2 separate regions of the Homo sapiens genome follow, and region 1 is linked to region 2. Evidence: fine-mapped expression QTL. A gene starts in region 2. The other region holds a variant in brackets. All regions are shown on one strand. Distances are between the middles of the regions. Region 1 has its middle 110 kb from the start of NAT2. Region 2 holds the start of NAT2 (N-acetyltransferase 2).

What was found. PIP is the estimated chance that this variant, and not a neighbour inherited with it, causes the effect.
Region 1: its variant is the best candidate, but not a certain one, in a credible set for the expression of NAT2 in cerebellar hemisphere (GTEx, PIP 0.80).

The regions. Positions count from the first base shown.
Region 1 is chr8:18,496,839-18,502,219 of GRCh38, reverse strand. No RefSeq gene overlaps it. Among named protein-coding and RNA genes, the nearest start is that of NAT2, 110 kb to the right of the region's middle. The variant C/G (reference allele first, on the strand shown) is at 3,211.
Region 2 is chr8:18,387,963-18,393,343 of GRCh38, reverse strand. NAT2 (N-acetyltransferase 2) reads right to left here and starts at 2,062. Exons shown (of 2, transcript NM_000015.3): 1 at 1,999-2,062.

The sequences.
Region 1 (5,381 bases), 110 kb before region 2:
TGTTTTTCCAATGAGGCGACCATTGCTCAAAACTATGATGTCCCATCCTCTCCTTCTGAGGATGGATAACCAAACTCAGCGATCTTCTTTTCAATAGAAACTTGAAGTGCTGAGATTGTTTTTCTTGGGTAGGCTAAAATAGAGCCACAAAAGGTCTTTCTTTTCCACCTCCATCCTCAGTTTCCAAAAAGATTGTTCTGGAGAGTGAGACTTAGCTGGTTGTTTAATTTATTTTCTTCATTGTCTTTTGTTTTTTGAGACAGGCTCTTGATCTGTCACCCAGGCTGGAGTGCAGTGGTGCAATCACAGCCCACAGTGCCTTGACCTCCCAGGCTCAGGAAATCTTCCCACCTCAGTCTTCAGAGTAGCTGGGACTACAGGGGTCCCAGCACCACTGCACTCAGCTAATTAAATCTTTTTTTGAGAAAAAAATTTTGAGGGGTCTCACTGCATTGCCCAGACTGGTCTCAATCTCCTGGACTCAAGTGATCCTCCGACCTTGGCCTCCCAAAGTGCTGGGATTACAGGTGTGAGCCACTGCACCTGGCAGGGTGTTTAATTTCTGTATGTCCACGGGCAAGCATCTGCTTTCTCTTTACTTGGTAATTACTTCTTGTCTAGAAGTAGAGGAGCTGTATCTAGCCCCCATCTGATGTTCTATTCGGCTGTTCTACTTTAAATTTCCTTCCCCTCTTTTCTTGACCGGCCTTTGTTCTTTTCACCAATCAAAGCTGAGCCCTTTATTGCCTAGAAAACCCCATCAACCACCCCTGCCCCTGGACTACAGCAACTTACAATTGGCATGAAACAATTTCGTTGGCAATGACCTTCTGTCCTAAATACTCTTTGCTTCCTGGGTGTTAGTCTTTTTGTACAGCCTACAACACAGTTATAAACTCTTTGAGGGCTGGCGCGACTCACTCAACCATTTACCTATCAGATCCCGGACGAGGTGATCAATATTTTGTTACTGATTATTTCAGTTGTGTTCTCAATCATATACATTAACGTTTTTCGTGGTTTTAATGCTTGCACCTTGTGGTGTGGTCATTTTTGTGTGTGCTGCTGCTGACTTTTTTCCCCAAGTAAAATCTTTTTCTTTGGGTATTGGGGAAAGTGGTGCAACATTTGGAGGAAGGGCCTCTACAAAAGTAGTTAGATGTTATCTGTATTTTCCTTTTTATTCTTGGCACGATCCTAATCCCCCCACATTTTTTTCTGGACATCTCCTTCCACGCTGATGGTGAGAATTCCTTAAGGCAGAACTTAATAGCTGCGTTGCCGATCTTCGGCTGTCAAGGTGTGGGTTCCTGGGAATAGCACATTCACTCCTATGGAGTCAGTTCTCAAATTTGTCAAAAATTCATGGCTATACTGAAAATTTAAACACTCTTCCCTGGCTCTCTAGAACGTTAATCAAAGATGCTAATATTTAACTAATGTGCTAGGTGCAGGGTTGTTCAACATCAGGATAAGGTGGTTGTGAGCAGTGAGTTTGCCAACATTCAGGAAAGGAGGAGAAAGAAAGGCAAAGTCTAGATCATTCCCAAGTTCAGCATCAGCCCTTGAACAACTGAGAGTTAACTGCCTTCGCTCTGTGTTTTCCCCTTAGTTTCAGTAGTTTTTGTCATTTTTCAAAGGCATGACCCCCTGGTTGCGCCCACAGTGATTGAGAGCACGTCTATCTCCCTTACAAGAAAGAGGTCATGGTGCCAGGGCCTCGTGTCACCCCCAGCTTCCACTCCCCCACTTCCAGGCTGGTTTCATTTCTCTTCTCTTTGCCCTTTGGCTTTTCTTTTCTTCAGAAATTTCAATTTTCCTTGCACCGAACGTATTAAAATTTAACAGTCACAGAATCTCGGTGTGTGACACGTGATGGCTTTCCCGATAACTTCATTTTCCTCTGTCATTGAAGAGGCCATTTTCAAAGTCACCCTGGACCGTGAACAGTTCTCACTTAATGCTTATTTGATTGTGTTTGTACACTGAAATTTTTGTCCTTTTGTCTCCTTGAGTCTGCTTTCTTTGGCCTACTACTAATAATATTATAATATGGGAAATAATAGTAATATAGGACATTTTAAATTCTCTCCTCTAAGAAGAGGCCAATACTGGAGAGTGAATACTTGATAAATCAAACTCCCCCTGTCCCCATCCCATACCACCCCATCTCTCTCAATTCCTCACTAAGTGGCTTCCAAGGATGGAGAATGAAGATGAGGAGGCCACATGTCTGGCTTCTGCCTTGCTGAGTGGGCGGTGGCAGTTGGAGGTGATCTGAGGAACTGTGTGGGAGAGGGGGAAGAAATAATGGGATAGATTTTGGTGGAAGGGTCTTCAGGAAATGAGGAGAGATATTGAAAGAAAAGTTGTGTGAGATTTTGCTATCCGGTGTGTGATTTCCTGATTTCCACCCCACCCCTGCCAAATCTCTTGTTTGTTTATTTATATGTTTTTGAGATGGAGTCTTGCTCTGTAGCCCAGGCTGGAGTGTGGTAGTGCAACGTCGGCTCACTGCATCCTCCGCCTCCCAGGTTCAAGCAATTCTCCTGCCTCAGCCTCCCAAGTAGCTGGGATTACAGGTACCCGCCACCATGCCTGGACAATTTTTGTATTTTTAGTGGAGATGGGGTTTCACCATGTTGGCCAGGCTGGTCTTCAACTCCTGACCTCAGGTGAACTGCTCACCTTGGCCTCCCAAAGTGCTGGGATTGCAGGTGTGAGCCACCATACTCAACCAAATCTCTTGTTTAGTTTCAGGATTAACGTGTGGCAGAGTGGGGCACCTATTCTACAAAAATGGTTTAGTGCCAGGTGTGACTTCAAGGTGAGCACAGACCATGAGTGGAAGTGAACTAAGCCCTTCCCCAGCCCCTCTGCTCCAGTTAGTTTAAAACTGCCTCCCTCAACGTGTGACCAGAGAACATAAAGTGCTCTGGGACTCTGGGATGTAGGAGTTAGTCTAAGATGAGAAAACTACCACCATCTCCTCGGGGTCTCATCTACACAGGGAGCCTGTGCACTCTCCGGTCCCCTCAAGCCCAAGTGTGCTGTGAAGTTTGACAGGTGTCATCTCTGGGGTTTCTAAAAGGCTCCCACTAAAGGATGCTTTGTGAAAGTCTGGTTTTCCTTATCAGACACGAATCACCTAAGTCTCTCCTTGTACCCAGATGGCTAAATTTGGTTTATATGATCTCACTGTGACCTTCT[C/G]TTGAACAGCTCTGTGCGTGCTGCCAAAATGAAAATGAACAATGTCAGTGCCATGATGTCCAGTTGAGCTGTGACCTGGATTCTGGTCTCGCATACACAGAAGCAACTGAAAGCTGAGAATGAGGGGCCGCCGATGGCTGGGTGTGTGGGGGCATTGTATTACTTGAGCCCATCCCTTGAAAAGCTTAGGAGTCCTCCACCTCCACTGGGAACTCATCAACTCCTGGCAAGAAGAATGTCCCTGGGCACAGGGGACAGGGATCAGCTGTCCGAGGTGAGAGTCCTCCCTGGTGAGCCCACACCTCCACGTGGGGCACTGCAGGCTGTGAAGAAAGGTGAGCAAGATGACAGTGTCGCTGCTGCTCCAGAAAGTAGGATGCAGGGCCCATCTGGCCTCGGCCCCCACACTTCTCACTCCCTGCTCTGTTGGTGCCAAGGCTTGACTTGCCTGTGAAAGGAAATGAGAAAATCACCTTGGAATTAAAAGACCAACAACAAATAGTCAACCTTGGAAGGGTCGGGCTGAAGACTCTTTTCGAAATACAGATGGAGGATAGAACAGAATGCTTGGGACCAGAAGTGTTTTGGACTTTGGACTTTTAGATTTTGGAGTATTGTCATTGTATTTACTGGCTGAGCATCTCAGATCTGAAAATCTGAAATCCAAAATGTTCCAACGTGCATTTCCTTTGAGCATCATGTCCGCCCTGAAAAAGTTTTGTATTTTGGAACATTTTAGATTTTTGGATTTGGGATGCTCAAACCTGTATTAGGTTGAACCATATAAAACTGCCAGCGTTGGTCATTTTTGACCAGCAAAAATGTCAATTTCATATGGTTCAAACTGACGTGATGGTGATTCCCCTTCTAAGTCTTCCCACTGCATTTGGAATAAAGACCATTTTTTTATTTTTATTTTTTTCTTTTGAGACAAGGTCTTGCTCTGTTCCTGGGCTGGATTGCATTGGTGCTATCATAGCTCACTGCAGCCCTGAACTCCTGAGCTCAAGTGATCATCGTCTCAGTCTCTTGAGTAGCCGGGACTACAAGTGCCTGCCATCAGGCCTGGCTAATTTTTTATTTTTTGTAGAGACAGCATCTTACTACATTGTCCAGTCTGCTCTCGAACTCCTGGGCTCAAGTGATCCTCCTGTCTCAGCCTCCCAAAGTGCTGGGATTACAGGTGTGATTGGCCTAAGACCAAATATTCTTGACTGAGCCCACCGGGCTCCCCCAACTCTCTGTCCAGCTTCACGGCTATACTTTTTGATCCTGCTATTCTCCTAACAACCTCTCCACCTCTTAGTCTTGCTCATTCTGTGCCCTTCCTGAAGGATCCCCTCTCTTCCCCAAGTAACTCATCCTTCAGATATGTGTTTGAATGCCAGTTTCATGGGAAGTCTTTTCTGACTAGGCTTTTCTGCTCCTCAATGTGCTCAGAGCACCTTCACTTTCCCTAGGAGGTGTGATCCCGGCTTGTATTGATGGATCAGTGTCCGTGTTGGATGCTTGCCTCTCCCCCAAGGGGCCCTGCAGCCAGACACCTGGAGGTCCCTCCATGTGATTGGTCATGGAAGCTTTGCCTTGTTGATACTTGTTTGAATGCTCTGTATTGAAGTAATAATTTGCATGACCATACGATAAAGGATTTTGCATTCTCTGTTCAATAGGAACTTTACCAACAGCCCTCAGACCATGAGAGTCAGTGAAAGTAATCAGAGGGCTCTGCCTTTTCTCTGCATCCCCTCCAGCGGTGCCACTACCAGTAGGGCCTTACCCCAGCCTGGCTCCCTGTCTAGACTTCTGGTAGCACCTCACTAGACTGAGTCTTGAAGGCAGAAACTGCTTGCCAATCGCTGCACAGGACATGAGGAAGGGCAGTGGTGAGTGCAATGAAAACAGTAGACATTCAACAAATATTTGTTGTTTGCATGAAACCTCAAGACAAGAGAGATAAAAGCTTTATTACCTTTAGGCTGGAAATCCCTTTACCCTAGGAAAACTTCCCCAGCCCCAAGGAGCCATGCAGCTTCCCCCTGCTTATAGCTCAGCAGTCTCCTGCTCGCTCTTTTCTTCCTGGCTCTCAGGGGCTAGCATAAGGCCAGCGTAAAAGCCCTTGTATAAACTTTCTTTCTTCCCTGGAGAAAACCTTTCAGCTAGCTCTAAGGACC
Region 2 (5,381 bases):
TCAAAACCAAGGGACTGCCTAAAGAAAATATGGAATGATATATTTAAATTTGCTCATTTATATTTATCCCAAATGTGTTTTTCCACTGCTATGACTGTCTCTATCTAAACACCTCTAACTTAAATCTCCCCAAAGCTATTACCTTGGCTTTTAGTATGTGAAACTTGTTTTAAATTTCAAAGTGGGGACTGAAGAAAATCAAAATATTTTACCCTCAAATATATTTCTTTGACATATTTAAAAATGGTTTCCACTGGCCAACAAGCAGAAGTGGCATTGCAAAACTGTCTTAACTGAGGAAAATTTGCGTCTGTGGACAATGTCCATTAATGCAGCCATACCCTCTCCTGTTTCTAAGCCTTTCCCAGGATCCAGAGCGATTGAGAGTCTGACACCTTTAAAGATCTGGATAGAAACATTTACCATCTTTTGCTTCTGAGAAAAGGTTCGTCTACATAACAAGGCCACCTTTGCTAGCCGAGCTTCTTCCTTCCTCTCTCTCTTAACCTGTGTTGCCACTAAAACTAATTTACCTGTTTCTGGCCATGCTTTGAGTCTCCACTCTTTACTGTGGCCTCGGAATAATACATGAGTTTCTGTAACTTACTGGGAAGTTGGGTCTTCATTCTCAAGTTTCCCAAGTGTGGTGGTTAATATTGAGTGTCAACTTGATTGGATTGAAGGATTCAAAGTATTGTTCCTGGGTGTGTCTGTGAGGGTGTTGCCAAAGGAAATTAACATTTGAATCAGTGGACTGAGAAAGGGAGGCCCACCCTCAATCCGGGTGGGCACCATCTAATCAGCTGCCAGCACAGCCAGAATGAAAGTAGGCAGAAGAATGTGGAAAGACTAGACTGGCTTAGTCTCCCAGCCTACATCTTTCTCCTGTGCTGGATGCTTCCTGCCCTCAAACATCAAACTCCAAGTTCTTCAGCCTTTGGACTCCTGGACCTTTGACCACAGACTGAAGGCTGCACTGTCGGCTTCCCTACTTTTGAGGTTTTGGGACTCGGACTGGCTTCCTTGCTCCTCAGCTTGCAGACGGCCTACTGTGGGACGTCACCTTGTGATCATGTGACTCACTACTCCTTAATAAACTCCCCTTTATGTATACATCTATCCTATTAGTTCTGGCCCTCTAAAGGGTCCTGGCTAATAGACCATGTATATACATTAAATAAATTTGTACTCCCTTTCCCCTATTAATCAACCTGTCACATGACAGTGACTTTTAGTGAAGCTTTAGGGGGCCAACAGCCTATGGCCCCCACATAAGGTATACATTGGCTCTGCCTGAAAATCAGACATATTGAAGTAGGAGAGCTTACAGGACAAAGGTGGATTCAAAGATTTTGTGATTGGCAATTTGTTGAAGAGTTAAGTTTTGTCTAAAGACTTGCGGTCAGTACAATTAAATGCTTGAGTTAAAAGGGCTTATGGGAACCATGGTTTATGTCATGTAGATGAAACCTCCAGCTAGCAGCCTTAGAGAAAACAGATGGTAAATATCTCTTTTCAGATTTTTAAGGTGTCAGACTCTCATTTATTCTCTCCTCAATCAGAGCAGAGCCAGAAACCAGCAAATTTCCCCATAAAAGATGGTTTTGCAAGACCATTTCAATATGTGTCAAAGAAATATATTTTGGGGATTAAATATATTGATTTCCTTCAGGGTCTGCTATTGTCATGTGATGCTAAACCAGAGTCAGATTGGAATTTGGTATCTTATTCCCACAAACAGTCCATTTTGACAGTCTTATGATCACTGTTTCAATGTTAATGCTGGTCAGTTGTGCCTGAACTCCAAAAGGGAGTGTGTATAATGAGGCGTGTCTGACCTCCCTTTCCATTATGGCCTGGAATTTAGTTTTCCAGGTTTCTCTGGGGTCGCCTAGGACAAGAGGGGATCCATTCAGTCAGTAGGGGGACTTGATTTTATTTTTAATTTATACCCCACTTTCAAAGTACACTGCAAATTACTTACAAAGTTCTACTTACTTTGGCCAGCAACCAGGAACTAGGCTGAATGCAATCCTCTTGCTTCCAAGGTCTGTAATAAAGTGCTCTCCCTTCCAAAGTCTGCAAGGGAAGTGATCTCACTGGAATTCCGTATCACCCTGACACCAGAGTCTAGTTAGGATCACCTCAGGGATCTCTGGGAAATGTAGTTGCAGGGCCTCAGGTTGCCTCTGTGAATCTCTTACGCAAATCTTTTTGTTAAAAATGGTGTGGATAATTATATTATCTGATGATACCCATGCCACAGGCTAGGAGAGCTGTGCCCTTGTATTTCACCTAGTTCTTGCTCTCTGGAAGTCTGATGCCAGACTTCCCATGTGTGATATAGAAGGTGAGAGCTTGAAACAGGTCAAGGAACAGCAGAACCAATAACTTAGAAGCGGCAGAAGAGGAAGATGAAAGGTTTTAGTCATACTCTCAGTTTATGGCACACTTTCATCACTTCCTATAAGGCCTCTCTTTTTCTTCTGCCTCTTTTCATCTCTCATCCTCACTCTCATTCACTTCTCTACCCAAAGGTAACACACAATGTGTCTGAAATAACTCTATGCATGTGGTATAAGTGTCACATGTATCATATGGCTTTGTTTCTGCTTTTTTGACATTAACATTAATGTAAATTTTTATTTCTCCTAGCCTGTGGCATGGGTATCATCAGATAATATAATTATCCACACCATATTTAATGAAAAGATTTGTGTAAATTTTTATTTACATTAATATTAATATAAAATATAAACATTGTATATAATGTTTTTTGACACATAACAATTGTATATATTTATTTGGTAGTGTGTGATGTTCTGATACATGCAGACATTGTGTAAAGATCAAATCATGGTAATTAGCATGTCTGTCACCTCAAACATTTATCATCTCTTTGTCATGAGAACATTCAAAATCCTTCCTTCTAGCTTTTTTTCTAGCTTCCATACCCTCTTTTCTCTCCAGTAACAACTCTTAACTTTCTACTACTCTAACTATTCTACTCTTAACTTCTATGAGCTAAATTACTTTTAGATTCCACATATGAGTGAGATGTGCAGTTTTCATGATGTAATTGTTGCCTTTAGCACCTACTGTTCCAGTACATACCTCTGGCATGCTGCCACATGAACTCGGGACTCTGTGGGAAGGCTTTCTTTTGGCCTGTGCTTGGGCAGATGGACTACAAATTAAAGCACCTGGGACCACCACTCAGCCCACATGATGGGAACTGGAGACTAAATATCCTTGTGTTCTACATGCTAAGGTGGGATTACTCTTAGGCATGTACAAAACTGCCTCCTGGTGTTGTCTACTGGGATTATGCTCCCTTTCTTTGCAGGCAGCCTGCCAACAATGCACCTTTTTATTGATCTCAAGGTGTCTTGGGTTCACTGTTATACTCCCGCACTGGTGATTCCTTAAATCATCTCCTAAATCAAAATAAGCCACTGGAATACAAATCTTTGTCTTGTGGCCTGGTTTTAGAGAAACCCAACCTAAGTCTCTTTAACTTACCAGTTCCACTTGTGAAGGACATTTGATTGCCTCCTACTCCTGGTTATTATAAACACTGATGTGATGAATGCGTTTCTAGACATCCTCTGCAGATTAGCAGAACTCGCTGGGATATATGTATTAGGAATGGGATCTGCGGAGGGGCAGATCATAGATGTACTTTTTCTTTTGGCACTGCCAGATTTCTGTCCTCTTGTATAGAAGAATTCCTACTTTCCTCATATCCTGATTGACATTTGGTGTTAGCCACCTTCAAATGTTTGACAGTTTTGTGTATCTAAGATGATAGCTCAGTGTTCTTTTCATTTTCACTTCTCTGATTCCCAGTGAATACGGGTGAATAGGTTCTTCACATACCTATTGACCCTTCACATTTCCATTTGTGAATTAAATGGCAAGGTTTTAAGAAAGAATTCCTTCTGCCAAATTAGTCGGGACACACAGGCGAAGAGAGATGGATTAAAATTCAGATCTTGCTAGAAAATCTTTGGCCAAGGTGGGGTGAGAGAGAAGCAGAGGAAATAATTCCAGCATGTAGGACTGTGATCTGGACCATTTTTGACTGAGTGTGGGAGAGGAATTGTCAATGGATTATGGTCATTTTTCTCCTTGATTGTTGGAAACCTGACACCTGGAATTAAAATGTTGCAATCCAGATTGGCACATGTGTAATTCTGAGATTGCCTCTAATTATTGTCAGTTTGACAGAGATCCTTGAGGATGTCCAGCAAGAACCGTCATGGGAAACTATGAGATGAGGAGACTTGTGACTAAGGGAGAGTAAGACCAGAGTCAAGGATCCTGGTGTCCAAGGGAAGAAACACCTGAGGCTGGGAGTGTGAGATGTCAGAGAGCTTGAGAATACCCTACAGCCTCCCACAGGGTGGTCATCAAGACCTTCAAACCAAAATTTGACTTCATCAAAGTTTTTTATGTGGAAGAAGAGCAGAATTGGGGAATACCTGAGCTGTCACTGAGTACTTCCTCACCATACAAGTAAGAGATACAGAGATGGGCTGGGCAACAACAGTGATACCATAAAGAAAAGCTCCTTCTTCACTGTGACTTATACACGTAGAAAGCATGTTGTTTGTGTCTTTAAAGAAAAGCATTAGAGTTAGTTATGTCTAGTTTACAGATTCTCACATGTGCTAACTCACTTTTATGTCAAGATTCTAAAGTTTGATAATTGACTGTTTCCTTGCTAACAACAAAACTTATATTTTTGCAGAGAAAGAAATAAATGTTCTTCCTTTCCTGATCTTCTCTGAAGAAGGGTTCTATATCCAAGCTAATTTTTTTTTTTTTTTTTTTTTTGCTTATTATCTACTTTAACATTTAGCATAACTTCTGGTTTTCACTTCAACAAGTAAAGTTTGGGATAATCCCTCCCATCTTCTCATCAATGAGAAAACTAAACAAACTGAAAATAAATCTTCTCAGATCCATGACAGAATTGAAGTCACAGCAAAGTGCTGTCCTGAAAAGAGACAGACAGTTAAAGACAGATAATCACAATTTATTCTCAATTCTAGAAACTAAAGCCCAGGTTCAGAGGACCACAGATGAAGCCAGTATTTTTAGCAACATACAAACATGTAATAATTCATGAATTGTTGAGACTCAGTGTAGACAAACTTGACAGTTTAAAACTCTTGGGTGCTCAGTCTCAGAAGGTCTTCACACTTTTGTGTTTTACCTCCAGGATGCCCACCAAGTTCTCACTGTGAATACTGGAGAATAGTCTCTTCATGCTCCTGGCAGAAGGTGGAGAAAAATAACCATTGTGATATAAGTCCAGAGCATTCTGGTCCTCCTTCCCTTAAGGGAAATTACAAGGGCCTAACTGAAGTGAGGTA